Linked DNA regions of Homo sapiens. The protein of the gene in region 3 purifies or fractionates together with the protein of the main gene of each other region. This does not show direct contact. Each region holds a gene or a part of one and is shown on either strand. Other genes may lie near its edges.

The links.
Region 1: the proteins of UBXN2B (region 3) and ACTR6 purify together in Homo sapiens (affinity purification with mass spectrometry; 3 studies listed by BioGRID and IntAct, with this or other methods). This does not show direct contact.
Region 2: the proteins of UBXN2B (region 3) and ASPSCR1 purify together in Homo sapiens (affinity purification with mass spectrometry; 4 studies listed by BioGRID and IntAct, with this or other methods). This does not show direct contact.
Region 4: the proteins of UBXN2B (region 3) and CDC42BPB purify together in Homo sapiens (affinity purification with mass spectrometry; 4 studies listed by BioGRID and IntAct, with this or other methods). This does not show direct contact.

What each region holds. Positions count from the first base shown.
Region 1 is NC_000012.12:100,202,884-100,211,347, reverse strand, and holds part of ACTR6 (actin-related protein 6), read right to left. Parts: intron 6,409-8,464; coding exon 6,291-6,408; intron 5,673-6,290; coding exon 5,604-5,672; exon of another isoform or gene 5,591-5,603; intron 3,686-5,590; coding exon 3,562-3,685; intron 1,276-3,561; coding exon 1,140-1,275; intron 1,054-1,139; coding exon 997-1,053; intron 1-996. UniProt on the Homo sapiens protein: Required for formation and/or maintenance of proper nucleolar structure and function. Plays a dual role in the regulation of ribosomal DNA (rDNA) transcription.
Region 2 is NC_000017.11:81,994,006-82,002,469, forward strand, and holds part of ASPSCR1 (tether containing UBX domain for GLUT4), read left to right. Parts: intron 1-815; coding exon 816-873; intron 874-1,986; coding exon 1,987-2,060; intron 2,061-2,414; coding exon 2,415-2,841; exon of another isoform or gene 2,842-3,029; intron 3,030-8,464. UniProt on the Homo sapiens protein: Tethering protein that sequesters GLUT4-containing vesicles in the cytoplasm in the absence of insulin. Modulates the amount of GLUT4 that is available at the cell surface. Enhances VCP methylation catalyzed by VCPKMT.
Region 3 is NC_000008.11:58,413,458-58,421,921, reverse strand, and holds part of UBXN2B (UBX domain-containing protein 2B), read right to left. Parts: intron 5,073-8,464; coding exon 4,969-5,072; intron 1-4,968. UniProt on the Homo sapiens protein: Adapter protein required for Golgi and endoplasmic reticulum biogenesis. Involved in Golgi and endoplasmic reticulum maintenance during interphase and in their reassembly at the end of mitosis.
Region 4 is NC_000014.9:102,931,303-102,936,436, forward strand, and holds the end of CDC42BPB (serine/threonine-protein kinase MRCK beta), read right to left. Parts: intron 2,542-5,134; coding exon 2,410-2,541; 3' UTR 1,078-2,409; downstream 1-1,077. UniProt on the Homo sapiens protein: Serine/threonine-protein kinase which is an important downstream effector of CDC42 and plays a role in the regulation of cytoskeleton reorganization and cell migration. Regulates actin cytoskeletal reorganization via phosphorylation of PPP1R12C and MYL9/MLC2.

The DNA.
Region 1 (8,464 bases), on a different chromosome or scaffold from region 3:
TGAGTAATGAACAAACCACTGCACTCCAGCCTGGGTGACAAAGACCCTGTCTCAAAATCAAAAAGAAACCCACACAGTGCATCAGATCAGGATAACTAGAATATTCATCATCTTCAACACTTATCCATTTTTGTGTATTGGTAACACTCAATATCCTCCTTCTAGTTATCTGAGACTGTAACATTCTTGCCAAGCTCAGGGGCGCGAAGTGCAGGTCAGTAATCCCAGCTACTAAGGGAGGCTGAAATGGGAGATCTTTTGAGCCCAGGAGTTTGAGACCAGCATGGGCAACACTGTGAGACCCTGCCTCAAATAACAATAATAGTAATAATAAAATTGTAAAAAGAAAACAAACAAAAAGAAACTAACATTCTTCAGATAACAAACATATAGCGATGGAAAGCCAATTAGTAGTTGCCAGGGGTCAGCGACACAGTCAGGGAGCAAATACAAAGGAGTAGGGCACATAGGGGAGCAAAGGGATCCTGATGGTATGATACCATCCAAAGTTAATGTAACAAGAAATTGAGATTTAAGAATTCTACTTATGTGTTAAACACAATAAAATTAAAAATAGTAGCATAAGTTATGTTAATGTACAACATTTACAATTTTTTTTTTTTTTTGAGAGAGAGAGAGTCTCACTTTGTCACCCAGGCTGGAGTGAAGTGGCGCGATCTCGGCTCACTGCAACCTCCACCTCCTGGTTCAAATGATTCTCATGCCTCAGCCTCCCGAGTAGCTGGGATTACAGGTGTGTACCACCACACCTGGCTAATTTTTGTATTTTTAGTAGAAGTGGGGTTTCACCAGGTTGCCCAGGCTGGTCTCGAACTCCTGGCCTCAAGTGATGCACCCACCTCGGCCTCCCAATGTGCTGGGATTACAGGCGTGAGTCACAATGACTGGCCTTAAAAGTAAGGAATAATCTTAAATTACTGTAAAAGGTTCCTCCCCAGAGCCCCATCCTCCCAAAGAATCAAAGCTAAGCATCACCTGTAAGATATGATCTCCTTTAGATGATTGGTTAAGAGTTTTCCTCCCACATTTATCCTGCAAGGGGAGAACTCAAATTTAATTATCGCACATATCATTCTGTTTAATCTTTAGAAACAACATGAAAATTAAATACAACTCACCGAATAATTGCTTCTTTTTTCTTTTTACTTCTACAATAAGGAACTATATGTGTAAAGGAATATCCACTATCAACAATGATACAGCATAATTCGGAAGGATTATCTCGGAAATACCTATGTGCACTGAGAGCCCCAGCTATTTAAAAAAAGATAAAAAAGTGAACAAAAATATAACACTAATTTAAAGCAATTAAAAAGGTAGGAAACAAAGACAAGCACCAAGACAAAAATGTTCCCTTTATTACAAGAAAAATGTTAATTTATAATACTATTCATAACTGTCAAAAGATCTTTATTGTGTTTATACTTTAAAACACCACACTTACATGGTAAACATAATAAAAATTTGGTATCCGTTTTTAAAGGTAAATATTCACTCCATAGTTTAAAAGAATTACTACAACAGCAGCTCATTTTTACTGATCATTTATTACATGCCAGACTCTATTCTAAAATCTGTATAATGAGTGTGTGTGTTAATACTCAAAACAATTCCATTTTACAGATAAGGAACCTGAAGCTCAGAGAAGTAAAGTAATGTGCTCAAAGCCACACAGTTAGGAAGTACCAGAGCCAGGATTCAAACCTAGGCAGTAGGTTGAGACCTCAGAACTATTGACATTGGGGGTTGGATAACTCCTTGTTGTAGAGGGCTTTCCTATGCGTTGTAGGATGTTTAACAGCATCTTGGCCTCTACCCATGAGATGCCAGTAGCACCTTCCCGGTGGTAATGATCATGGCACACTGCAACCTCCACCTCCCGGGCTCAAGTGATCCTCTTGCCTCAGCCTCTCCAGTAGCTGGGACTGTACACATGCACCACCATGCCTGGTTAATTTTTTAATTTTCTTTTGTAGAGATGGAGTCTCACTATGTTGACCATCTAGCCTAAAGTGGTCCTGCTGCCTTGGCCTCCCAAAGTTCTGGGATTACAGGCATGAGCCACTACACCTGGTTGAGATTGTGCCCTTAACCACTGCCCATACTGCTGCTTATATGGACTTAAATTCTGAAAGTTAAATATTTAAATACTTTCATTGTACCCAACCATGTCATGTAATCTAAGCCTGTAATACACTTGCTTCTAGATGATATTTACAGATTGTTCTCCCTCACACTGGCAGCCTGAGCTACTAACATTATTTCAAACAATAAGAATTCGGCCTGGAGCCGTGGCTTATGCCAATAATCCCAGCACTATGGGAGGCCAAGGCGGGAAGATGACTTCAGTCCAGGAGTTCGAGACCAGCCTAGGCAACAAAATGAGACCCTGTCTCTACAAAAAATAAATAAATCAGCCAGATGTGGCAGCACATACCTGTGGTCCCAGCTACTTGGGAGGCTGAGGCGGGAGGATCCCTTGAGCCCAGGAGGTGGAGGCTACAGTGAGCCATGTTTGTGCCACCACACTCTAGCCTGGGCAACAGAGCAAGACCCTGACTTAACAAAAACAAACAAACAAACAATAATAATTGCAAACACATAAATGACAGGAAAGATAACTACCTCAGAATCTTTCAGAAATAAGAAATATGTGGCCAGTAACTTCATTAGAAGAAATATTAGTAAAAAGATAAAATGAGAGATGTCTGACTATATAATCTCTAAGGGTCCATTTAGTTTTAAGATTCCAAAACTTGCGCAGTGGCTCATGCCTGTAATCCCAGCATTTTGGGAGGGCAAGGCGGGTGGATCACTTGAGATCAGGAGTTCAAGACCAGCCTGACCAACATGGTTAAACTCCATCTCTACTAAAAATACAAAATTAGCCAGGCATGGTGGCGAACGCCTGTAATCCCAGCTACTTGGGAGGCTGAGGCAGGAGAATCGCTTGAACCCAGGAGGTGGAGGGTGAGCAGAGATTGCTCCATCACATGCCAACCTGGGCAACAAGACCAGAACCCCATCTCGGAAAAAAAAAAAAGAAAAAGAAAAATCCAAGACTTATTTCCTTCAAATCTAAAAAATGCCACATAGTATTCTGGAACTTTAAGAGTTTCTTTACTTGGTTCATATCCATATTCAAGCTTCACAGAATTCAATTTCTTTTTTTTTTGGAGACAGGATCTCACTCTGTCACCCAGGCTGGCACGATCATAGCTCACTGCGGCTTCAACCTCCCAGGCTCAAACGATCCTTCTGCCTCAGCTTCCTAAGTAGCTGGGACTACAGGTGCGTGTCACCATGCCCAACTAATTTTTCTATTTTTTTGTAGAGACAGGGTTTCACCATGCTGCCCAGGCTGATCTCAAATCCTAAACTCAAGTGATCTACTCGCCTCAGCCTCCCAAACTGATGGGGTTACAGGTGTTAGCCACTGTGCTAGCCAAGAATGCCACTTAATATTTTGGGACTTTATGAGTATTACCCTATTCATATCCATAGTCATATAACTCAATTTCAGTGAAAACTTGAACTCACCATTTACTCTTAATACTGCTTGAAACTGGTATTCTTCAAATAGAATTTCATTCATTGATTCTTGAATTGAAGTGAAGTTAAAGTATGGTTCAGTGATAATAATATTAGTATCTAAAAAATCAACCTATAGGAGAAAACATTCCAAAATGTTTCATAATTTGTAATGATAATTAACACTTGTTTTACATGTACAAACAAATTTATTTAATCCTCACAATAATCGTGATGTCTTATTACTATCCCCATTTAATAGATGAGCAAACTGAGGCACAGAAAAGTTAAATAAGTGACCAAGTTCATAGAGCTATTTAATGACATAGGTAAGATTTGAATCCAGGGAGTCTAGTTACAGAATCCATGTACTCAACTATTATGCAATTTTACTTCTGTTAGAGGTAGCATTAATAAAATGTTACCAGCCTGGCACAGTGGCTCATACCTGTAATCCCAGCACTTTGGGAGGCTGACGTGGAAGGATTGCTTGAGGCTAGGAATATGAGACCAGCCTGGGAAACACAGCAAGACCCCACCTCTACTAAAAAAATAATAATAATAATAAATAAAAATTAACAGGGCATGGCGGTGCATGCCTGTAGTCCTGGCTACTTAGAAGGATAAGGTAGGCTAATTGCTTCAGCCTGGGAAATTGAGGCTGCAGTGAGCCATGATTGTGCAACAGAGCAAGACTCTGTCTCTAAAAAATGAAAGAAAATGTTACCATAAAATTGTTTAAAGACAATTATAGAAACATTAATGAATGATACAACAAATATTGGGGCTGTTATGTTTCTAAATGAAAGGAAAACAAGGTCAGGCACGATGGCTCAGCTTGTAATCCCAGGACTTTGGGAGGCTGAGGCAGGCAGATCACCTGAGGTCAGGAGTTCCAGACCAGCCTGGCCAACACGGTGAAACCCCATCTCTACTAAAAATACAAAAAAAAAAAAAAAAAGAGCCAGGTGTGGTGGCGCATGCCTGTAATCCCAGCTACTCAGGAGGCCAAGGCAGGAGAATCACTTGAACCCAGGAGGCAGAGGTTGCAGTGAGCAGAGATCATGCCACTGCACTGCAGCCTGGGCAACAGAGCAAGACTCCCCCTAAAAAAAAAAAAGAAAAAAAAAAGGACAGAACAAGACAAAGACAAAACAAGAGAAGATGGGGCTGGTGCGGTAGCTCACGCTTGGGCGGATTGCTTGAGCCCAGGAGTTTGAGATCAGCCTGGGCAACATGGTGAAACCCCATGTCTATTAAAAAGAAAAGAAAATCATAATAAAAAAAAACTTGCAGATGTTTTATTTATGTATTTATTTATTTATTGAGACATAGTCTTACCCAGGCTGGAATCCAGTAGTGCAATCTCGGCTTACTGCAACCTCCACCTTCCAGGTTCAAGCAATTGTCCTGCCTCAGCCTCCCAAGTAGCTAGGACTACAGGTGTGTGCCAACATGCCTGACTAATTTTTGTATTTTTAGTAGAGACGGGGTTTCACCAGTTGGCCAGGCTGGTCTCAAACTCCCAACCTCAAGTGATCCACCCGCCTCAGCCTCCCAAAGTGCTGGGATTACAGGCATGAGCCACTGCGCTTGGCCTGCAGATGTTTTAAATTAAAAAAAAAAAGGCAAAGGGCAAGATGCTTAAGATATTCAAGTTTATGTAATTCTCTCACACACATTCTTGAGAAGTATTAAAACTTGAACATTTTCTCCTTATACCTATAATCACATTACAGACATTAAAAACACAAAATCCTCTTGTAATATTCATGTATTTAGATATGTAAGCAAAAACGTTTGTGAAAATTAAGATGATATAGTGAATTGATCTAATAATAGAAATCTGAAGTAAAATTTTGAGTTTCATACAGACTATCTTTACTCAACCTCTACTTCAACATGGAAATTTTATTCACTTGCATTTATTATTTATTTTAAATGTGCGGAGAACATTATTCATAAGTTTATAAATCTTAAAATGTAAATTCTAATTTTTCATTACAATTAAACATGGAAATAGAATTTTAATACATACTCTAATTTGTTACCTGATACATTTCTTTTCCAAAAAGGTAATCCCAAACTTGTCTCTGAACATCCCAATTCACCAAGTAGCCCTAAAAAATGTTTTTATAAATTTAATTATCAAGAACATTTGAATAATTTTTAAAAATCAGATTATAAATATTTGAATAATTTTTAAAAATCAGATTCCAAATCACTGATTTCTATCTATGGTTACCATTTCCAGTGTAATGCTGTATGAATTTCTTTTTTTTAATTTAAAAAAAAATTTTTTTATTATACTTTAAATTCTGGGATACATGTGCAGAACGTGCAGGTTTACTACATAGGTATACTGCTGTATGAATTTCAAACCAATTATGTTAGTATGTTTTTCTCCTTTAAAAAGTTAAAAAACAAACTCACAAATAAGCAATAACTAAAATGTCAGAGGTTCAAAAGACACACCAATATATACAGTTGCCTCCCTATACTTATTTTCTTAAATTAATGTGTGCATACCACTTAGATTTAATGTAAGTAAAAATCAGTACTCACAATAAGTAACTAAATCATGGTCGTTTATTTTTACCCAAACAATTAAATTTTAATTTGGGTTTAATTAGGTTGTAGTTAAAATTTAAGTTACACACAGCCTTTTATATACAATTAAAATTATCTTTAAATTTAGGTCTACAATGCTAGAAATGAAACATAATTAATTGGATTACCTTTTGAAAAGGGAGGATGTAAAAGAGTCCAGAAGGGTCTTTTATTTCATCTATCTGGTTGGCAGTAAAAGTTTTAAGACGTGCTGTTTTTGACCGGAACTGACAATTAGGAATAACCCTAGAAACAAGGAAACAAATAATTATCCCCTAAATATTTAGTTCCTAAAAACATTTTTACTTCACCACCACTCTTGATGCCAAAAGATTAGCGTATCCTAAGATTGGTATATCCAGTGTTTCTCATTCTGTCTTAAAATAATACCAAAGGCTGGGAGTGGGGGCTCATGCCTATAATCCCAGCACTTTGGGAGCAGGATGATTGCTTGAGACCAGGAGTTCAAGACCAGCCTAGACAACATAGCCAGAACCTGTCTCTACAAAAATAAAAAATAAGGCTGGGCATGGTGGCTCACGCCTGTAATCCCAGCACTTTGGGAGGCAAAGGCGGATGGATCACTTGAGGTCAGGAGTTCGAGACCAGCCTGGCCAACAGGGTGAAACCCTACCTCTACTAAAAAAAAACACAAAAATTAGCCAGGCATGGTGGCACATGCCTGTAGTCCCAGCCACTAAGGAGGCTGAGGCATGAGAATCACTTGAACCTGAGAGATGGAGGTTGCAGTGGTCTGAGATTGCACCCCTGCACTCCAGCCTTGGTGATGGGGCAAAACTCAGTCTCAAAACTAATAATAAAATAAAACAGAAAGAGAAAAATACGAATCAGGCAGGCATGGTGATGAGCATCTATATTCCTATCTTCTAGAGGAAGGCTGAGGCAGGAGGATTGCTTAAACGCAGGAGTCTGCAGCTGCAATGAACTGTGATCCCACTACTGCATTCCAGCCTGGGTGGACAGAACAAGGCCCTGTCTCTATTTTAAAATAATAATAACACAAAAATGCCCCTCCCCCATTTTTTTTTAAAGTTCAGTATGTAACAAGTTCTATACTGGATCCTTTCTTTCTCTAATAATCCTCAAGAAATCCTTACAGGTAAGTATTGCTTCCGCCACTGCAGAGGCGAAAGCCAGTGCTTTGGTAAAGGTCCTAGTCTTTCTGGCTTTAACACAGAAAGTCTTAATACCATTTGGATTAAAGATTCACAAGTTAGGCCGGGCGCGGTGGCTCATGCCTGTAATCCCAGCACTTTGGGAGGCCGAGACAGGCAGATCACGAGGTCAGGAGATCGAGACCATCCTGGCTAACACGGTGAAACCCTGTCTCTACTAAAAATACAAAAAACTAGCCAGCCTGGTGGCGGGCGCCTGTAGTCCCAGCTACTTGGAAGGCTGAGGCAGGAGAATGGCGTGAACCCGGGAGGCAGAGCTTGCAGTGAGCCAAGATCACGCCACTGCATTCCAGCCTGGACGACAGAGCGAGACTCCGTCTCAAAAAAAAAAAAAAAAAAAAAAAGATTCACAAGTTAAAAATTATGGCCATAAAAATTAAGTTTCCAGCCGGGAGCAGTGGCTCACAGCATGTAATCCCAGCACTTTGGAAGGCGGAGGCGGGCGGATCATGAGGTCAGGAGTTTAAGACCAGCCTGGCCAACATGGTAAAACCCCATCTCTACTAAAAAATATAAAAATTAGCTGGGCATGGTGGTGCATGCCTGTAATCCCACCTACTGGGGAGGCTGAGGCAGGAGAATTGCTTGAACCCAGGAGGCGGAGGTTGCAGTGAGCAGAGATTGTGCCACTGCACTCCAGCCTGGGCGACAGAGCAAGACTCTGTCTCAAAAAAATAAAATAAATTAAGTTCCCATGAAGCCAAAGATCTTCAATCAGCAAGATGCTATAGGGCAGGGATCCCCAACCGCAGGGCTTGTGGTCCGGTACCTGTCTGTGGTCTGTTGGGAACCAAGCCTTCATAGCAAGAGGTGAGCACCAGGGTGGGGAAGGAGGGTGGGGCCGTAAGCATTAACACCTAAATTGCACTTCCTGTCAGATCAGCCATAGCATTAGATTCTCATAGGAGCAGGAACCCTATTTTGAACTGTGCATGCAAGGGATATAGTTTGTGCACTTTTTTTGTGAGAATCTAATACCTGAGAATAGTTTCATTTCAAAACCATCGCCCACACTCATACCCCCAACCACACGTTAAAATTGTCTTCCACGAAACCAGTCCTTGGTGCCAAAAAGGTTGGAGACTGCTGCTGCTACAGGGTACAGA
Region 2 (8,464 bases), on a different chromosome or scaffold from region 3:
TCAGTGGGGAGGATTTCACGGTGGGGAGTTGGAAACGCAGAGGCAAGCCCGCCTCATGCAGCAGGTGCCACCAGCAGTTCACATGCTCTGGGGCTGGATGTGACGGCATGTGCCCGTCTCCCGGGCTGCCATGCACATCAGGCATGTGTGGGAGGCGTGCTGCATATACCTGCCCACCCATGCACGGGTCCAGCTGTGCCTCCTGCGGGGCGAGGCTCAGAAAGACACTGGTGGCAGAGTCCGACATGGACTTATAAGCACGGCCTCCCCGGCCACAGGCAAGCGGGCGTGAGCGGAGTGCAGCGCCCCTCCCTCCATGCTTCGGTGACATCAGGCGTCGGCTTTGAAGGAGGACATCAGGCGGTGGAGACAGGGGCACCTCCTCTTAGTGGGCGGCTTAAGATGAAAGCCCAGACGTCGGTACCCTGACTCTCAGGCTCCTGAGTACAGGTGTCCGTGAGCCGCATTCCGGAGCCAGTGCTGCTCGCCCCTCCTGTGCGGTCCCTGGGCCCTGCCGGCAGCTCCACGTCCTGCCAGCGGCCCCGAGACTGGAGGTCTCGGGGGGAGCCCCCAGGCCACGCACCACAGGCCAGGGTCCTTGGGAGCGCCCCCGGCTGTCAGGTGCCTCCTTTTGGTGGTTGTGGGGCGCAGTGGGGCTGAGGTCTGTGGCCTGGGCCTGGGCCTGGGACGCTGTCCTGGGTGGGTGCTGGGTGAGGGCCCCACACCTTTGCTTTCCGAGTCTCCTGCCCCAGGGCCTCCGTGGCACTGGTTGAGCTGCCCTGGGGTACCTGATGGTTTCTTTCCTCTCCTCCCAGGGAGTGCCTGCAGCACCCCGGCGGGGCCACCCCAGTCTGCGTGTACACGAGGGATGAGGTAGGCGGCCTGCTCTTGCTCACCCAGTCCCCGCTCACTTTCAGCCCACTTTCCAACTGGAAAATCTGCTGTCCCGCAGCCGTCTCCAGGGCAGTGGCGGGAGACTCGGGCTCTTGAAAGCACGACGTGTTTCATGGAAAAAGAGGGAGTGGCCGGCCCTCGGAGCCCGGGCTGCCCCGAAACCTCCCTCGGCGCCCTGTTTGTTTTTTCAGCTTCTCTCAAAGCCCAAGAGTCACAAAAGTGGTTTCATTTAATAAATATTTGCTTTGCTCGGTGTTTTGATCATTTTCAAAACCGAGTGTGGCGTGGCGCAAGCAAAGCCCGCCGTGGCGGGACCCTCCTAGCGCTCGTCCCTGGCCTCACAGGGGCCTTTTGTTTCCACGCTGGCTGAGTGCCCTTTGCTGGGGTGGGGGGGCACTGGCCCGGAGGGGCCCTGGGGGGCCAGGACATTCCCCGCATTTATCCCCATTTGGAAGCTCCCTGGCTGGGGCTGTGACGGGGAGGTTCAGGTCTACGTCCTCCCTTGAGGGGATGAGCCACGGGGCTCAGGACCCAGGCCCAGCACTGTCCTGAGGCTGTGGCCCTCAGGGACCCTTACACCCTTTGGCTTTTGTGCTGGGCCATTGACTGTGCCCTCGCTAGAGGCAGCTTCTCCACCCCTTCCTCACAGGTCAGAGTTAGCGTATGGGACGTGGCCAGCCAGGCCCGATCCCTGCCCACCCCGAGCTGAGCACCAGGAATGGCCACCCCCGTGGGTGACAGCACGTTCCTGCCTCTCTCGCTCCGGGCAGTGGGTCCTGGCACCAGGGCTTCCTCCTTGCAGCCCAGCTCTGCCAGCCCAGGCCTCAGTGAGCTTGGGTCCCAGCTGCGGAGACCAGGCTGGGGGAGACACGGTCAGGCATGGGCAGCAGGTCCTGCCCCGGCTGCAGACCAGACTCAAGCTGGGCCTTGTGGAGGGTGTGGACCGGCAGGGGCCAGATGTGGGGGGTGGGTAGGATGGAGGCCAGAGAGGGCACGTGGCCTGTGGTCCTGGTGGTGCCGGTGCCCGGAGGGCTTCCCTGGGCTCTGGGGTCCCGGTGCAAGGCGCACCTGTCCTGGCTGCTCCTCCTGCAGGTGACGGGTGAAGCTGCCCTGCGGGGCACGACGCTGCAGTCGCTGGGCCTGACCGGGGGCAGCGCCACCATCAGGTAAGGGCAGTGCTGCTGGGGCCGAGGAGTCTATTTAGCTAAAAAAAAAAGTGGTCTCAAAGGAAAGGAGAAAGGACACGTGGCAAGTGGGGAGTAGGTGTACCCAGGCCCTCATCATGGAGAGCGCCTGGTGGCCTCTGCCTGCCTGTGGGCGTGGGGGCTGGGCTGCCCCGACCTCATCTCTGTGTCCCCCAGAGGGGCGGTGGATCTTGGGAGGGCGCATGGGGCAGGAGAGGGTGAACCGGGGGCGGGAGAGGGTGAGCCGGGGGCGGGAGAGGGTGAGCCTGGGCCGGGAGAGGGTGAGCCGGGGGTAGGCACCACAAGGTGCTTCCCTTGTCCTCTGGCCCCACTCAGGTTTGTCATGAAGTGCTACGACCCCGTGGGCAAGACCCCAGGAAGCCTGGGCTCGTCAGCGTCGGCTGGCCAGGCAGCCGCCAGCGCTCCACTTCCCTTGGAATCTGGGGAGCTCAGCCGCGGCGACTTGAGCCGTCCGGAGGACGCGGACACCTCAGGGCCCTGCTGCGAGCACACTCAGGAGAAGCAGAGCACAAGGGCACCCGCAGCTGCCCCCTTTGTTCCTTTCTCGGGTGGGGGACAGAGACTGGGGGGCCCTCCTGGGCCCACGAGGCCTCTGACATCATCTTCAGCTAAGTTGCCGAAGTCCCTCTCCAGCCCTGGAGGCCCCTCCAAGCCAAAGAAGTCCAAGTCGGGCCAGGATCCCCAGCAGGAGCAGGAGCAGGAGCGGGAGCGGGATCCCCAGCAGGAGCAGGAGCGGGAGCGGGTAAAAGGGGCTCTAGGCCTTGGGACTTGGGGGTGTCCTTTCTCCTGATGTGTAGCCCTGCGTGGCTTTAGCTGGTCAGCCTGGTGGCGTGGCCGTGATGCGGGCAGAGGAACCCAAACGCGCAGAGGAACCCAAACGCGGGGCTCTGGACAGGAGCCTTCTGACTTCGCCCAGGAAGGAATTTAGGGGTAAGCAGGTGGTAGAGAAAGTAGCTTTACTGAGACGGTGGCTGTGTCTGCTCCGGGATGAGGCCGTGTCCGCTCCGGGATGAGGCCGTGTGGGCTCCGGGATGAGGCCGTGTTGGCTCCATGACAAGGCGGCAACTGTGTCAGCTCCGTGTTGGCTCCGTGATGTGTGGCACAGAGCAGGGCCGCCCTGGGGTGGTGCATGGAGGGCAGCAGCTCAGGGCATGGCCGTGGTCACATTTACATCCACTCAACTACATGCACGTTAAGGGGTGGGGCATTCAGAAATCTCTAGAAAAGGGGTGGTAACTTCCGGGTTATGGCCAGGGAAGGGGGAGCTGGTGAACGCATCAGCCAGTCTTCAATCTGGTCTGGAATCAAGCCCCACCTCCTACCTGAGCAGGGTCACTGGGCTTGTTCTTAGCTTCTCAGGCAAATGATTTTTTTTTTTCTGGGTTTTTTTTTTTTTTTTTTTGAGACAGAGTCTCACTGTGTCCCTAGGTGGGCGTACAGTGGCGCGATCTCGGCTCACTGCAGCCTCTGCCACCCAAGTTCAAGTGATTACTCCTGCCTCAGCCTCCCGAGTAGCTGGGACTACAAGCGCGCACCACCAAGCCCAGCTAATTTTTTTGTATTTTTAGTAGAGACAGGGTTTTACCATGTTGTCCAGGATGGTCTCAATCTCTTGACCTTGTGATCCACCCACCTCGGCCTCCCAAAGTGCTGGGATTACAGGCGTGAGCCACCGCGCCCAGCTCTTTTTTCTGGTTTTAAACCACCTTTACTGAGGCACCCACTTTTTTTTTTTTTTTGAGATGGAGTTTTGCTTCTGTCGCCCAGGCTGGAGTGTGGTGGCGCACTTTCGGCTCACTGTAACCTCCACCTCCCGGGTTCAAGCGATTCTCCTGCCTCAGCCTCCCAAGTAGCTGGGACTACAGGCGTGTGCCACCACGCCCAGCTAATTTTTGTATTTTTAGTAGAGACGGGGTTTCACCATGTTGGCCAGGCTGGTCTCGAACTCCTGACCTCAGGTGATCCGCCCGCCTCAGCCTCCCAAAGTGCTGGGATTACAGGCTTGAGCCACCGCGCCCAGCCTAATTTATTTTTATTTTTATTTTTCATAAAGACGAGGTCTCTCTCTGTTGCCCAGGCTGGTCTCGAATTCCTGGGCTCAAGCGATCTTCTTATCTCAGCCACCCAAAATGCTGGGATTACAATTGTGAGCCACCTCACCAGGCCTGAAAGTTACTTTTTATAATATTGTGGATAGTATCATGCTTCCTGTTACATCTTTGACTGGCTGACTCCTTGCTAGTTCTAGTGGCGTCTTGGTTTCTGTCGGGGCCTCTGCAGACCTTTCCCTTTGTCCTCTCATCGTTTTTCTTCCTGTGTTGCAGCGAATGGGCCTCTGGTGCTTTTGGATCGTGGCGATCTTAGTAGACATCCTTCCTTGTCTTGATCGTAACAGGAATTACTAGTCATTTCTCTGCCAAGGATGATGTGTGCTATAAAAAGCCTTTATCAAGCAGAGAAAGTTACTATTCCTAACTTTCTGACATTTAAAAAAATCTTAAGTGGGTGTTGAACCGTTTCAGTGTTTTCAGCATCAATGGAGATGACCGTATGCTTTATTTTATTGGCTTGTGCATGTGTGTTCATAAGTGAGACAGACTTTTTTTCCTTGCTCTGTCTTCATCCAGTTTGGGAATCGAATTTCACCTGGCTCACAAGGGAGCTGGGCAGTGGCCCCTCTTTTCTGGGTTCTGGAAGTTCTCCGAAGGTTATGGCCACTGCTCACTGCAGACTACACCCACCACTGGGGCACTGGGCCCTTGGCGGGGAGTGCATGCAGGCAGGCGGCCAGGTGCTGACCTCCGAGCATGCCTGTGTGTGGCTGTGGCCTGACCCTCTCCCTCACGCCTCCCCCCAACCGTGGGGACCTCGTGTCTGTGGGGTCCCTGGCCCTGTGGCTGACTTTTCCTTTGTCCCTGTCCTGACCCCGCATCAGAGCCCTGCACCTGGGCTGCTGAAACCTGACTTCCTCAGCTTCCTCACCTGCAGAACTAAGGTGTTCGTGGCATTTATGGGTTTTGTGCCAAAAGAGGCAGACTGGGGGACTGTCATGCGGCTTTCGGTGACAGGGATGGGAGGAGGCTGTTTCCCAGCCCCTGTGTCCCCTGAGGGCCAGGCTGCCAGCTGCCAGCCACAGCCCAGGGGCCAGGTCAGAGCTTCTTGAGCTCCTGCTGACGTAGTGGGCCTGGAAGGCCCCCATGCCTCCATCTCCTGTGGACATTTAAAATATTTGTGTCTGGGCCTGTGGCATGGTGGCTCACACCTGTAATCCCAGCAGTTTGGGAGACCGAGGTGGGCAGATCACCTGAGGTCAGGAGTTTGAGACCAGCCTGGACAACATGGCAAAACCCTGTCTCTACCAAAAATACAAAAATTAGCTGGGTGTGGTGGCAGGTGCCTGTAATCCCAGCTACTCGGGAGACTGAGGCAGGAGAATCTCTTGAACCCGGGAGGCGGAGGTTGCAGTGAGCCGAGATCGTGCCACTGCACTCCAGCCCGGGTGACAGAGTGAAACTCCATCTCAAAAAAAAAAAAAAAAAAGAAAACAAGAAGTGGCCAGGAGGGCTCTGTGCACATGGCCCCGGCCTCGGCTGTCCCCTGGGCACTCGTGCTACGTGTCCCGGAACTCAGGTGAGGTCAGGAGTTTGCTTCCTCCTCCTCTGGCCACTTCTGAGTGAAGCAACCTCATGCCTCCCTCTTGCCTCCCGGCCACACACCTGGGAGGGCAGAGGCCGGGCGTCTGCACCGTGTTGGATGTGGGGGCTCCCATCTAGCCCGGCGTCAGGGTCCAGCCCCTCTGTTTTCTGTCCCCCTGGCTGTCCTGGGACTGTTCCTGTTGAGTGGACAAGGGAGTGGGGAGTGAGGGTGTTGGGTCCATTCTAGGACTATGATGGTGTTGGCACCCCATCCTCCCTCTGGGAACTCTGCCAAACTCTGCACTGTGACACCTGAGTCCCCATGAAGCGCTCGTGCCCCTCGACCCGTGTGCTCCGGGTGAGCAGGGGCTGACCCCCTCTAGGCCTGCTCTTGTGGGGACCCCTCAGTGTGAGAGACACAGTGGCTGTCATGTTCCCCCATTCTAGAGGCGTGGGCCTCAGCCCCTTCCCTCCGTGACCAGGGCGGGTCTTGTCTGCAGAGCGTGGGGCGTGGAGCATGGGGCTCGCAGCCCAGAGTAGTGCCCGCCCGTGCTCGCCCGTCGGGAGGCGCTGTTGGGGTGGGGTCTTGGCTGGCAGGAGGGGTCCAGGGGAGGGAGCGTGTGCCTGGCCTGCATGGCGTGCTGAGGGCCTTTGATCTGGGACTTGGGCAGCTGATTGATGGAGGGCGTCCTGCCTGCCCCGCGCCTCCCATCGCCGCCAGCCGCACACGCAGAGGGCCCGGGGCCACATGCCGCTGCTGGGTCCCTTTCAGTGATGGGGGGAGGGGAGAAGGGAACAAAACAGAACTTTTTTGGGGAACTTCAAAGGTACACTTTAGTAAGCAAAAAGAGTTTCCAAGTTTCCCATTAATGTTTTGCCTGTGTGTGGTTTTTGGACTTAAATAAAGAGTCAGAAGGAAGAGACAGGATAAAATACAGGCAGGTCCTCGGCCGAGACCCGGGGTGGTTCACAGACCCGGGCGGTTCCTGCCTTTGATGTCAGGCATTAATTATTAGAAGGTAGTTTTACTGGCGATCAGAACCGGGCGCTGGGAGAGGCTGGGGCTGCCCGGCGCCCCCTGGCCCTGTCTTTGAAGTGCCTCCACTGGCTGGGAGGCTGCCCTGCAGCCCTGTGCTGGGCTGGGACGCCAGTCCCAGCAGACGCCCCCCACAACTCGGCCTCCCGGCAGCTGGCACGAGGGCCGCTCCTGATCAAAGGCTGGGTCTGCCCGCACGGGCTGGCGGCTGCTGCCCTGCCTGCCCCTCCCGCCTCGGGGGTGAACCTTGCTCCTGGAGCCGGGGCCTGGGGTTTCCTCAGCACCCCTGCTCACACCCGGCCCTCTGTGGCTGACAGCCGGTGTGGGACTCGTGGGGCGGGGAGGAGCCTGTCCCAGGGTTTTGGGGGTAAACCAGCGGGGAGGAGGCTGGGCCTGGAGCGGGTCATGCACTGGGCGTGGTGAATACACCCTGCCTGGGACCCCCGTGTGCCTGGCAGGGCAGGTGCTGTTGACCCTGGGCAGTAGGTATTGGGCCAGGGGCTCCTGCCCCTGGACCCTGACGCCGGGCTAGACAGGAGCCCCCACATCCGACGCGGTGCAGACTCCCATCCCTGCGGCCAGCACAGTCAGTGGCCAGGGTGGCCCAGGTCCCTGCTATGCCTCATGGGTGTCTGAGGACAACCCTGGGCTCTGAGGCTGTCCCTAGGGGCACAGCCTGTGGCCTTGATTGGAATGGCCACCAAGCGTGGCTGGCAGATGGCTCAGCGACTTTGCAGGTGGCTGGCTGAGTCCCGGCTGTTTAGAAGCCTGGTGACTGACAGGCGCTTGTGTTTTGGTGAGGAACCCCGGGGGGTAGGGGGTGGATGCTCGCCACTGGGGCTGTGGGGAGAACTGGGAGTGTGGGGCTCCGTACTGGGCGAGTCGGCTGCTGCAGGGCGCAGACCCCACTGGCCCCTTCTGGCCTGGACTCTCCTCCCCGTTGGGCCCAAGATCCCCTGGTTGGGATTGTTCCAGGAACTCAGGTCAGGGGCCCCGTCAGCCCTTCCCGGGCTCCCCCAGGAGCAGCCTCCAGACTCTGCCCTGCGGATGACCCCCCTCACCAAACTGCTTTTCCTGCCTGTCCGGGGGTGTTGGTGCGCTTTATCCACAGTGACACACGCCTGCCACACCGTAACGTGCCCAGCTCCAGACGGGCTCATGGTCAGCCCAGGCTGCAGCAGTCCTGAATCCTGTTCTTATTTTTCTTTTCTTTTTTTTTTCTTTTTCCTTTTTTTTTTTTTTTTTTTTTTGAGACACAGTCTCGCTCTCTTGCCCAGGCAGGAGTGCAGGGGCACAATTACGGCTCACAGCAGTCATGACCTTCCATCTCAGCCTCCCGAGTAGCTGGGACTGCAGGTGTGAGCCACTGCACCTGGCCTCTTTTCATCTTCTAAAGTATTTTTCTTTTTAAAATTAAAAAGTGATTTTTTTTTCTTATGAGTACCTCATGCTTTATATTTTCATCTTTTCATTTTCATTTTATTTTATTTTATTTATTTTTTTGAGACAGTCTCGCGCTGTCACCCAGGCTGGAGTACAATGGCACGATCTCGGCTCACTGCAACCTTCCCCTCCCAGTTCAAGTAATTTTTCTGCCTCAGCCTCCCGAGTAGCTGGGATTGATTACAGGTGTCTGCCACCTGTAATTTCTGTGTTCTTTGTAGAGAAGGGGTTTTGCCATGTTGGTCAGGCTG
Region 3 (8,464 bases):
GAATGGAAATACCTGATCTTGGCTAGCTTTGTTTGTTATATTGATTTCATTTAGATTTCCCTCCACAAGGTCAGCAAACTATCATGTTCTTATGTAACCTTAGGCCAAGGCCAGAGTTATCATAGTCCCTAGGTTGCTAAGGCTTATCATGTGTTTGGTAAAAGGTGATTGCAGGTTCTCAGATGAGGTTACTTTACATGGGATGGAATCAGGCAGAGAGGCTGGGATGATGGAGAAAGCTTGAGGTGCAGGTTTTAAAAAAAGGTGTGGAAATTAAAGTTCCAAAGAGGTGGTTGCTGAGGAAGTGAGAGAGCCCAGGGCCAGTAATGAGAGAGCCCAGTCAGTAATGGGTGAGTCAGGTTATTTGGAAAGTTGGTATGACAAATACATGGTATTTGTCTACTTCTAGGTTGCTGGTAGGTATTAAATATGCACAATATTCCAGAGCTCACTGAGGGTTTTAAAATTATAAGCATAGGATTTTATATTTTGGGGTGAAAGAGTTATCTGGCACATGGTATTGGGTTTTTTTAAAAAAGACAAATTTCACAGTCTTAATAGCTTTAAAAAAAAAAAAAACTAAAAGGTGCTTCATGTCTAGTGTGTGGCCTTCCTGAAACTTATGGTCATCTCTCCCACTGAAATCAAGGTCTTTTGAAATGTGGCTAAATGGGGATGAGAAAACATGTGTAGGACTTTCTTGGTGTGTGTGCATTCTTTAAAGAGCCCAGTTGCTTCGGGGAAACAGTCAAGAAAATGGTCAAGATTGTTTTTAGAGGTAATTTTATTGGGGATTTTAAAACTAATAATATCTTGAGTTATTTTTAGTTCAGGGGGATGTGGAAAGGTTTGCAATTGTGAAGTGTTTTATTTTAGCTTAGTATCCATAAGGGAAACTTAGACTGTAGACATAACTACAAAGCCAGTGCAGTTTTTATTTTCTGTATGTTGTTGGGGGAATCAAGTTTTACATATAGCAAGCACATGGCCTCCCTGATGTCAGGATGCCTTTGTCAGGATCTGTATTTGCCCTTAATTTTATTGAAATAGCTTTTCCTTCTTCCTCTTGAAAAGTTCCAAAATATAGTTTATTGTATCTTTCATCATTAAAAATTTGTTCTTTTTTCACTACAGGCAGTTCACACAAGGCAAAAACTATTGAACAGTTGGTTTTAGTGGGTCATATAACTTTGCTGTATATCAAACTAATTTTGACAAGTTTTCATCCTAAGCCTCAAATCATGTAATTAATAATTTGTCTGTTTATTTGTGACCTAATTGTAATTCTTTTATTAATAAAAGCTAATGGGAAAAGGATCCCTGATTAAGCTGATGACTAGACCTACAATTAATTTTCCTGCAGTATATGAAGTACCAGAGTATTAAAAGATATTTAATATTTTATTGATAAATCTTTTAAAGGGAATATGTTTTAGGATGTCATCATTTTGATGTGAATCATGTAAATGTTGATAATATGCTGTTTATTATACATTTAGTGTTTCAAGAGATTCACTTAATTGCCTTTTTGCCCACTTACATTATGTAGTCTATTTGCAACTGTTTTTTAAAAAAATGACATTAAAAGAATACTTTATGTAGAGAAACATTAGTGGATGTTAATTGTCTCCCCACCTATATTTATGGGTGTTAGCGCAACTGCTTTGCTAGTTGCAAAGCTGTATTATCAGAGTAAAAGTGTATTTGTAAACTGTATGGGAACTAAAAATTAGGAATAAAACCATTTTCTTATATGAAAACAAAAAAATTACAACTGAGATGTATCCATCTTGAGTCAAAGCTTTTAACATTGTATTATAGTTTTGTCACTAAATTTTTATTAAAAGACAAATTGACTTTCCACTGCCTTCTACACAGGGGCAACTTATCTTCTTGGTCTTCAAGGCTGTATCCGCAACTGGCTACATAATTTGTGAGACCCAGTGCAAAGTGAAAATCGAGTCCCCTTGTTCAAAACCAATTAAGAATTTCAAAACAGTAACAGCAAAGCATTACTCCAAGCACAGGGCCCTTCTAAGCATGGGGCCTTGTGCAATAGCACAGGTCACATGCCTATGAAAGCCTTCCTGGCTGCACCCCCATCTATCCAACCTTATTTGCTACTAAGCTACTAAAGTTCTGCTGGTTCTTTTTCTGGTTCCTCTGGTCATTTTGATTATGTGACTCTCTGTTCCTGGAATTTTGTCCCTTGTCTTCTGTGCTTATCTAACTCCTAATATCTTAAATCCTTTTAAGGCCCAGCTAAGTACCAACTCTGTGCTAGGCATCTTATTCACTTTATCTCATTTAATTCTCAAAGCAATACTACTATACAATGACTTGTGGAGGACATATCCAAGTTCTGATTGTGATATTTAACTTTTCATGGATGAATATGTCAAAACAGGCATCAGACTATATCCTGAGGGTCTTTCTGTAGATTACGTAACTCCTCTTGTAAATTAAAAACACAGACCATCTTATGTCCAGAGTTTCAGATAATGAAACTGTCTTGGCTTAAAATGACAATGAGACAATAACTGTTTTGATTTCAAATACCGCCCAAGGAGGTGGACCATGAAAATAAGCACTGTTTTCTGTACCAAACAGACCTGTAGAAATACAACGAAACTGGGAAAATTTCGATATTGAATATGAAATCAAAGGAAGTATACACTTAGCATTAGAAGATATCATACGTAGAAAAAAAGATTGCGAACAATCTGCTATACATTGTATTATAAACAGATTAAACACAGTTTACGTCTCAACCTATATATTTTAAGGAAACTCAGTTCTTTTGATAGATAAATTATTCTAGAAATCAAATGTGAGGCACAAAATCCTTACAAACTGGATTACTGAATTATACCTATTAATCACAGCATTGTTTCAGACAGCATAAAAGAAAACCCTTCACTGAAATATCTTAATGATTATATTTGAATAGCAAGGAAAATATTAATACAGTAATCTTATGATAAGAACTCAAATATTAAGTCATTCAACTTATGTTCAAACTGGGGAAACAGTGGCCAAATAGTGAGTAAAATGCAAGTACAGAGATACATATTAAGTACTTTCAAGACTTGGGAGAATATACAAATTAAAGAAGCAGCTAAAAATACAGTATTTTATATGTATAAAGGTAAGAATTAAATGAAAGAATAGGATGTTCAACTAGTGTCAAGATACCAAACTGCTGATTACAAAGGACACACAGTATCTTACAATGGAGTGCTGTGGTGGTCAGCACCTTAACCAAATGAACATATCACTAATGGTGGAAAATCCTGAAATTATGACTCCTGTTGTCATGTAATAAATAGCAGACAATATCACTTATCTAGCATACCCGACAAAAATTCTAATAAAAATCTAATCATGAGGAAACAGTGATCTACAATGTTAGACATTTTATAAGACATCTGGCCTAGACTCTCTAAAAAAGTCAACATAATAAATTTTAGATTATGTAGCTGAGCTAAAAACAACAATAAAAAGGTGGGAAGAGTTCTGTGTATTCAGAAATTCAAAACAGGAATAATTAAATGCAATGCAATGTCCTCAGTTGAATCCTAAATCCAAAGAAAAAGCTATAAGAGATATGTGACTACTAACTATATATTAAATGGCATCACAGAATTACTATTAATTTTTTTTTTTTTTTTTTTTTTTTTGGAGACAGAGTCCTTCTCCATCATTCAGGCTGGAGTGCAGTCGCGCCATCTCGGCTCTCTGCAACTTCTGCCTCCCAAGATCAGGCGATTCTTGTGCCTCAGCCTCCCAAGTAGCTGGAATTATAGGCTCGTGCCACCATGCCCAGCTAATTTCTGTATTTTTAGGAGAGATGGGGTTTTGCCATGTTGGCCAGGCTGGTCTTGAACTCCTGACCTCAAGTGATCTGCCCACCTTGGCCCACCTAAAGTGCTGGGATTACAGGCATAAGCCACCACTCCCCGCCTGAATTACTATTAATTTTGTAAGGTGTTATCAATTTTGCAAGTGTGTGCTTCTTCTCGGGAGACTCATGCTGAAGTATCTAGAGGTGAAGTGTCATGATGGCTACAATTTCCTTTCAAATAGTTGAGTAAAAAAGAGAGAGAGAATACATGCGTGCACAAGTTCAATGTAACATTGTACCAACTTGGTGAATATAGGTGAAGTAAACACAGTATTTACTCTACTAGTCTTGCTTTTTGATGAACTGAAAACTTATAAAATAGACTTTCTGAGAATAAGATATAATGGGAAAACTGACGTTTCTTCCCCAGGGATGGTATTTACAGTACTAAAAAGATGTTAATGAAAATATTCCTGGCAACAAGAAAACTCACAGCAATAAAAGACACCTGGTTCTCATCTCTTAAGTCTTCACAGTTGGTTGTTTTTATACTTCAGGGATTTTAATAACAACAAATACTATTTAGGAGGTCACACATTAGAGGAATCATCACCCAAAGGAAGAAGAGACAGACTTCAAAAATCATAGATTCTTAAATGGAGGACAAAAGACCTGCAGAGGCTCCATGGAGTGGCTTCAAGAAACACACATATCCTTAAAAACGAATGACAAACTTGCACATGAAAGTTGTTTTGAGAGGAGAATTCTATAGCTTTCATCAGACCCTTAATGAGTCCTATGACTCAAAAAATATTAAAGAACCATTGTGCCCAAGAAAAATAGTATTCAGGATATAATTTCATATGATATCTACCAAAATATTAGGTATTTTAAGGTAATTTTTCCGTAAGTTTCTTTTGGCTTTCTGATTGTAAAAGTTTTAATAGTACCTAAATGATATTAATCATTTCTATTTTTTATCCAAATCTGCCTCGATCTTGGAATAATAATTTTTAAAAATTATTGAAGAAACCTTGAAGAAGGCCATTTAAAATAATTTGAAGTTAGTAAATTTTTAGAAAGGATTATAATTTCTTTTTACAACAAAACAAAATAAAACTTACCGTTGAGGTGGTGTCCGTGGGCTCTTGAAGACTGTGGCTTTAGGTCTATTAGACTTGGAAGATTTGCACTTCACTTCATCTTCATACAATTCTGCCAAGGCCAACTACATAATAACAGGCTTGTTACAAAGTATAACACTAGGAATAACCTCTTCCATACAACTAGAAGTTATGTATAGAACACTAACTTAAAATTGAGTGGTAAAGACTTTTCATGAAAAAAGCTGCTGCTTCAGATGATTCCTTTCTGAAATAAACTTACTGCATCTCATTATATAGAACTAACCAAAATGCCACATCTATTAGAATAACTTTAAGTTATAATAATTACTTGATTATTTTCAATTAACTACTGAACAGTGTCAAAATCTGTTTTAGGTAACAAACCATTTTCAAATTTAAACCTAAAATTCTTGTGCAATTCTTTTAAGAATTCCTGAAGATGTTCACACTAACGTCAGCTTCTTCCATCAGATCTCATAAAATAGTTTCATTCAGCTATTCAAGTTTTCAAACTCCAAGCATATAAAACAATTTCAGAAGTATTCTATTTAAAAGTCTACCAAACTTATAAATTTCATCGTGTTTAGGAAAATGAGTTTCTGAACAAACAAGACCATAAATTATATATGGTTTATATACCATTTAGAAAGTAATATTACCAAATTATACATTCTAGATATTGGCTGGATAGTTTATTTCAAAATGAAATAAAATTATATTTGTTCTTAAAATGGAATTTTAAAAAGTAATCCAATATTTCAGTATTGTATAGAATTTTTTCTGACTTTTGACATCTTTGGACAACAACTCAACAACTTTCTTTAATGCTCCTGTGGCTATTCAATTATAATTGGCATGACCATAATCTCCGGTTTTTTTTTTTGTTTTTTTCAAAAAAAACCCAAAAAACAAACAAACAAAAAAACCCAAAATCATAACAAAACAGATTAAAATGCTCCTTTTAGACACACAAATGATATGAAAACTACCTCCAAGAAGAACAGGGCATTGGGGCAATGTTAATTCTTTGAAAATTCTATTAGTCAACTTTTAAAATATACACAAATAAAACAAAATGAAAGACTTCTAATTTTTTTACCCCTACCCTCCCACATTCAGTAACATTCATATTTGTACAATGGCAACTTTGCTAGAAATCTGAATTATAAAAGTGTTTGGTAATCTAAAAGGACTGAATTCAAATCGTAACTTAGGCACTTCCTGTGTGATCTTGGGCAAATTATTTAATTTCTCTGAGCCTTAGTTACCACATCTTCAAATGCCTATAAAAAATCACCGTAGTCATTTGAAGGATTAAATAATGTATGGAAAGCACAAAGCATGTGTTCCATCACTAGAAGATATTATTCTTAAATGTTTAGTAATGATTGTATCAGTGTTTCATTTTCCCCAAGATTTTTTTTTCTTCCTACAGTGTTATATCTCCTTATGGTCCTTTACTACTCCATCCCCTCCAAAAACACAAAACAAAAAACAAACAAATGATAGAGGAGAGAGAGACAGACATGCACATACACAGTCTGATGACTAGGGTCTAAAGTTTTCAGAAATTTTACCTCCCTGAAATTTCTTTAAAGTAGTATTATTTTATGGATTTCCTTCTAAGCTCATTATGTCAGCTTTATGAATTACTTTTATGATATTCCTATTCTCATCAATGAAAATGTCATCTGTATTTCAAAGGCCCATTTCAGCTCTCCTTCACAAAACCTTTTCTAATCTTCTTAATATCTTTTTTTCTAAATACTCATAGCACGTAATACCCCCAATGACATTCATATTAAGCATTATGTTGTCATTACTTGTGTACTTTTGCTGTTTTATTTCCCCAACTAGATTTTAAGTTTCTCAAATTGTTTCTAATATTGTACCTAAAAGGCAACAAATTGACGTTGAATTATATAAAGAACATAATAGAAAATGAATCAGAAATAGATATAGATAGATGTATTTTAAATTGGGGTTATATTTGTTAAACACTTTTTGCTTTAACAAGATTTGAATAAATGCTTCCAATCAAATAACAATTTTCTTTGGTGACATAAATTAAAAAAGCAAAAATGCCACTAGCCCCATGGAATGTGGAACATACATTAAGAAAAGAGGAATATGAGGAAAATGATATTAAAGAGTCTACCTGGCTGAAAGATCCTAGTTATTAACGGTACATCATTAAAAACTTAGAAGAAAATGAGTAATATTTAGAGGGAGTTGATGCCATATGGCATCATATGGCATGAGTTCATTAGTAAATACTACAAAGAAATTTAATTTATATTATTTAACATAGATGACATTACATCAAAAGAGGAAATGATAATTTAAATTGATAAATATTAATTGAAGTACTGGTCAAAACTAACACAACAAAAAAATCTCAAAACGTAATTAAGAAAATGTTTCAATAATATGCAGAGGATAAAGTATGTAAGTAAAGTATTGATAATCTTTCCTCTAGAATTTGAAATGTGAAGAACTTGAAACCTGAAAGCAAAGGAATCGGGTGAGAAAATAAAGTATATAGCAAAATATTAAAAGTATTGGAATTCTCAGCCTTAGAGTAACCAATTCTAGACGCTGTAATAAATGATTATTATACAGACACCTGGGAACTTCTAGGAAATGCATATGCTTAAACTCTACTCTAGAACCAATGAATCACACTCTGGGGTAGGGCCCAGCAATCTCTGACAAGCCTTCCAGGTCACAGATGCATACTAGAGAATCAACGATACAGAATAATGACATTCAATATGATTAGGGTACTTGTGGCAACACAGTTATCAGAACAGCTATCAGACATTTTAATTCTTCTCATTTATAGTACCCACTATTGAGTCCATCCTAACAAATCCAATCCTAACCCTAACAATACTGAAGTTATCCCTGTTCCCACTCCCTCCCCGTCCAACCTATGTAGAAACAGATAATATGTGGAGGAAAACTGGGACAGAGTATACAACTAAATACCTTAATGAACATGTGTGTGGCGGGCTGAGGGACACCAGAAGAGAAAGCAATTCAGAAATACTATTGAACACTGGTGAGGTTTTGGGCTTAGTTTTGCCACTAACAATCCCACCCCTAACTTTCCCCATGACCATCTCCTTATTTGAGGGGGATGAAGGGAGCTATGAAAATCTACTCTGATATGCAAAAAAACATTTCCGAGTCTGCAGTTTGTAACCTGGGGGCTCCCAGGGCTGGGAGGCCTTTTGGGAAGCAACTATGCAGCTTTTCTCTGGTGGTACCTGGAACACTCCCTCCTGATTCAGATGCTGACAAACCCTACACTGCATGGCAGCTAAGATACACTTACTCAGGGGTAATTCTGCTTGTTCCAATTGGTAATATGTTGCCCCTTTACTCACTCTGAAAGACTCTTAGAGCAAGCTGTTAGGGAAGTAAGAAATATCTACTGAAAGCTGCACGAACTGCGTAACTCTTAAGAAAAGCATGTCTAGATTAAACG
Region 4 (5,134 bases), on a different chromosome or scaffold from region 3:
GCTGGAGATGTCACCGGCATCCCCAGTCATGGCCTGGCCCCCATTTGGAATCTTCTGCCCAGGGGCCCAGCTTAGCCACCAGGACACGTGCTGTAACCCAGATCAGGGCCCCGTGCTTCGAGGTGCGGCTGTGTTGTGGTTGGAATGAGTCACTCTCAGTGCTGTGCAGTGTCCCGTTGAGTGACCGCCACAGTTCACGTGTGTGCTCCAACAGCTACCATCTCGCATTTTTAAAAGAAGTGGCCGATACTCCCACACGCACTTTTTAGCCACAATTTTCTTTAGTGTCAGGTGCAAACTGGAGAGCAAGCCTGAGCTGACCAGACACCACCTGCCACCCACTGCTCACCCGTCACAGATGGACTGTGCTGGCAGGGACCTGCCTCTGGTGTGGACTGTGGAAGGAGAGATGCTCTGGGCTTCCAGGGGAGCCGCCTGCTGCAGCAGCAGCCCAGGCCATGCTGCCTGGCACAGAGCTCAAGGTCCCAAGTGCCCCCGCTGGGTGCTGGGCTGCCTGCCCTGGCTTGCAGTCTTCTCCCAGGTCCGCACTCTTCTGCAGGGGCCATCACTGCCCTTGTCCTACCAAGGACAACTAGGTCTCAGTGAGTGGCAAATAGAAGCCAACTCCCTGCATAACTCAGGAAACTGACTCCGAGCATTCCCTCAACCAGGGACCACTCACCCTGGCCCAGACCTCCCCGAGAACTCCTGCCTCTTCCTGGGGCCTCTGGCCTACCCCATCCTGTCCCTTGGGGCTGCTGGCAGGGTTGGCGTGTATGGGTGTGGACAGGCAGACCCTCGCGGGCAGCCTGCTCCTGGGGCCCTGGCACTGCCTGGCTGGGGCTCACAGGCACGCTGCCCTCCTCCCTTCACTCCTGCCCCAAGGATGCCCTCTGTTCAGGCTGAACACCCCAACAGCAGCCTTTTGGGTGACCTCCGAGTGAGTTACCCAGAATAGCTTCTGCTGGCGAATAGCATCTTCTGCAAGGTGGCTCCTTCACTGCCTTTTGGAGCTCAGGCACTTCTGGGGCCCAGACACACGGGTGACATGTTACCACATCCAAACGGACCACTGGGAACTTTAAAACTGCCGTCTTCTGCTTTATTGACAGGTAAATTGTTCAAAAATGTTCTCACAATTCAATAATTAATTACAAAGACTGAGACTTACATTAAAAAAGTAAAAACCAGAACCCCCCAGGTGCCCATCCAGCAGAAGGCCCAGGAGGGCAGTGGGGTGGCAGGGCTAGGCGGTGCTGGGCCACTCAGTGCCGACTTGGGGAAGTGCACGTCCTGAACAGCCTTGCCAAGCAGCCGACCGGTGGGAGGACAGGGGAAGCCTGGCCCAAGCTGTGGACAAGCTGTGTCTGCCGCCACAGTTAATCACAAGCCTCTGACGACACAGGGCCACAGAGCTGGTCACTCAACATCTGGTACAAAGGGTGAGGTGAAATCCACGCGCAGGGGATTGCTGTGCCGTGGGCCGGGGCCAGTGTGCAGGAGTGTGTTGGGTGGGTCTACGTGATCATACGGGCTACTAATCACGGGGGCTCCATGCGGGGGCAGGACTGGTGGGGGGGGGGGCGGGCAGGGCGGGGCGGGGTGGGGTATCCCAGTGGCTGCTTCGTGGCGCCCTGGGGCTCTGACTTCCCTCAGCCCAGCAGGCCACAGGGCCTGCCTGCACCACGACACTCGCTGGTTTTATGGCAGGAGGCAGAAGCCGTGGAAGCGAATGGAAAACAGCACAGCTGACTTCACAGTAGTAGATACTGGTGACACTTCATGGCTGCGACCCAGAATGAACTTAATGCACACAGGGACGCAGGGTGTCACTGGTCCTGGGCCTTTGTCCATGACTAGGTGGTCAGCAGGACTTCTGCAGCTGACTGTGCAATGGCTAAATGAAAAAAAGGCCACAGACTAACCTCCACTTTCCTGTCTTCAAAATTCTAGTGACACTGGGAATGCTATAGGACCTCCTACTATTCTCTTAAGGTCCTAGGAAAGTTTCAGGAACTAGGGAAAAGACTGGGTACTGAGGCTGTGTCCCCAGATGTCTGCTTCCGAAGCAGCCGCGTCATGACGGGTTTCTGCTGAGGAAGTGGTGTTGGCAGGGCCCCATATGCCCTCTCGGGTTGTCAGGGGTGGGAGACAGGCTGTATGGGGGTCCTTCATGTGCAGATGGAACAGCATCGCCTCACAGCTGTGCAGACGAACAGATGTGGTCTACTGCCACGAACAATGCGGCATAAAACTGATCAATATTATAATAAAGATTTGTCTTCTTCATCTCCATATCTACAAAGTGATTCTACATTTCCTTGGACAACACTGGAGGGCCCGCTCAGTCTTGGCACTGACGCTGGAGGCCATCTCCAGCTCCCTGGCCCCTGTGGCGAGCTGGCGGCTTCAGGTGTCACAGGCCGGCTGCTCCAGGCCTTCGAGGGGGAGCTGGCTCCTGTGGGGGGAGTTGGGGCTCGGTGGGCCGCTGGGGTTGGAGCTATTCGATGGAGTTGAGTGTTTGGTGGAGTCCGAATCAGGCTGTGAACAGGAAGAGGGCAGGGTGAGCACCCGCTGCCCTAGCCTGGGGAGGCACGCGTGCCCAGCTGGATGCAAATGTTTGCTCAGGGACAACTGTCGCAACTGCTCTTCTCCCTTCATGTTATGAAAACACACACGCTCTACACCAGCGATTCGTGGGGCCCTTAGGCGTGCTGGTGAGAGTCACAAATTGATGTCTAATCCCACTCAAAAATAACATGGTAATTATCATTACAAAAGACAGCAACTCTGTAGTGAAGAAATCAGATGGGGCCGGACGCAGTGGCTCCTGCCTGTAATCCCAGCACTTTGGGAGGCCAAGGTGGGTGGATCACACTTGAGGTCAGGAGTTTGAGACCAGCCTGGCCAATGTGGTAACACCCCATCTCTACTGAAAACACAAAAATCAGGCCGGGCGTGGTGGCTTACGCCTGTAATCCCAGCACTTTGGGAGGCCAAGGCAGGCGGATCACAAAGTCAGGAGATTGGGACCATCCTGGCTAACATGGTGAAACCCCGTCTCTACTAAAAATACAAAAAATTAGCCGGGCGTGGCAGCATGCACCTGTAGTCCCAACTGCTGGGGAGGCTGAGGCAGGAGAATGGCGTGAACCCGGGAGGCGGAGCTTGCAGTGAGCCGAGACTGCACCACTGCACTCCAGCCTGGGCGACAGAGCGAGACTCCGTCACAAAACAAAACAAAACAAAAAAAACAAAAATCAGCCGGGCACAGTGGTGCGCACCTGCAACCAAGCAGTCAAAGTCACAAACGCGACACTCTTTCCTGAGAAAAGCACTAGGAATAGAGGGGAACCTCCTCAACAAAATAAAACAGCTAACCATACCCAATGGTGAGAGACAAAATTTTCCCCTAAGATCAGCCACGGGCCGGGTGCGGTGGCTCACACCTGTAATCCCAGCACTTTGGGAGGCCAAGGTGGGCAGATCATGAGGTCAGGAGATTGAGACCATCCTAACACAGTGAAACCCTGTCTCTGCTAAAAATACAAAAAAAAATTAGCCTGGCATGGTGGTGGGCACCTGTAGTCCCAGCTACTCGGGAGGCTGAGGCAGGAGAATGGCGTGAACCCAGGAGGCGGAGCTTGCAGTGAGCCGAGATCGCATCACTGCATTCCAGCCTGGGCTACATGTAGAGTGAGACTCTGTCTCAAAAAAAAAAAAAAAAGAAAAAAAGAAAAAAGATCAGCAACAAGGCAAGGATGCCTGCTTTCACCACTGCTATTCAACATGGGGCTAGAGGTTCTAGGCAGAGCGATCAGGGAAGAAACAGAAATGAAAAGGATTCCAAGTTAGGAAGGAAGTAAAGCTATCTCTCTTTGCAGATGACATGATTATACACGTAGAAAATCCCAAAGAAAAGAATCCACAAAAAACTAATAAGCTCAGCAAAGTTATAGGGTATAAGATCAACACACACAAGTCAGTTGTGTTTCTATACACCAGAAATGAACACACTGAAAAGGAAACTGAAAAAAAAAATTCAATTTACAACAGCATCCAAAAGAATAGCTAGGAATAGTTTAACCAGAGAAGGGAAAAATGTGTACACTATAAATTACAAAACATTGCTGAAAAAATAGCTTAAATAAATGGAACACATCTCATGTTCGTGGAGTAAAAATATTGTTAAGATGGCTGTACTAGGCCGGGTATAGTGCCTCACGCCTGTAATCCCAGCACTTTGGGAGGCCAAGGCGGGCAGATCACTTGAGGTCAGGAGTTTGAGACCAGTCTGGCCAACATGGTGAAACCCCGCCTCTACTAAAAATACAAAAATCAGCCAGGTATGGTGGCGGGCACCTGTAGTCCCAGCTACTTGGGAGTCTGAGGCATGAGAATCACTTGATCCCAGGAAACAAAGGTTGCAGTGAGCCAAGATCGTGCCACTGCACTCTGTCTCAAAAAAAAAAAAAAAAAAAAGACATTAATTATGAGGAATGTAAATAACGACAACCCATAGAACAAGAGAAGACATCTGCACATCACATCTCTCACAAGAGCCTGGTACTCAGAACATGCCAGGAGCTCCTACAACCCAGCCACAAAAGGACAAACCACCCATTTCAAAAATGGGTAAAGGCCTTGAGTAGACATTTCTCTAAAGAAGGTACGGAAATGGCCAACAAGCATATGAAAAGATGCTAAACATAAGTCTTTAGAGAATGCAAATCAAAACCACAATCAGGTACTACTTCATAGCCACCAGGACGACTATTAAAAAGAAGAAAAACAAGAACAAGTATTGGTGAGGATGTCGAGATATGAGAACCCTCACATTGCTGGTGGAATATAGAATGGTACAACTGCTGCAGAAAACAATTTGGTGGTTCCTCAAAAAGTTAAACATAGAATTACCACATAAATCCAGCAATCCCACTCACAGGCATAAACCCGAATGTGAAAACAGGCACTCAAACACATATGTGCACACACGTGTTCACAGCAGCACCACTCACAACAGCTGAAGGACAGAAACAGCCCAAATGTGCCTCAGGGGAAGAATGGGAAAACAAACCGTGGTCTAGCCATACAAGAGAATATTATTTAGCAATAGAAACGCCAGCACTGATGC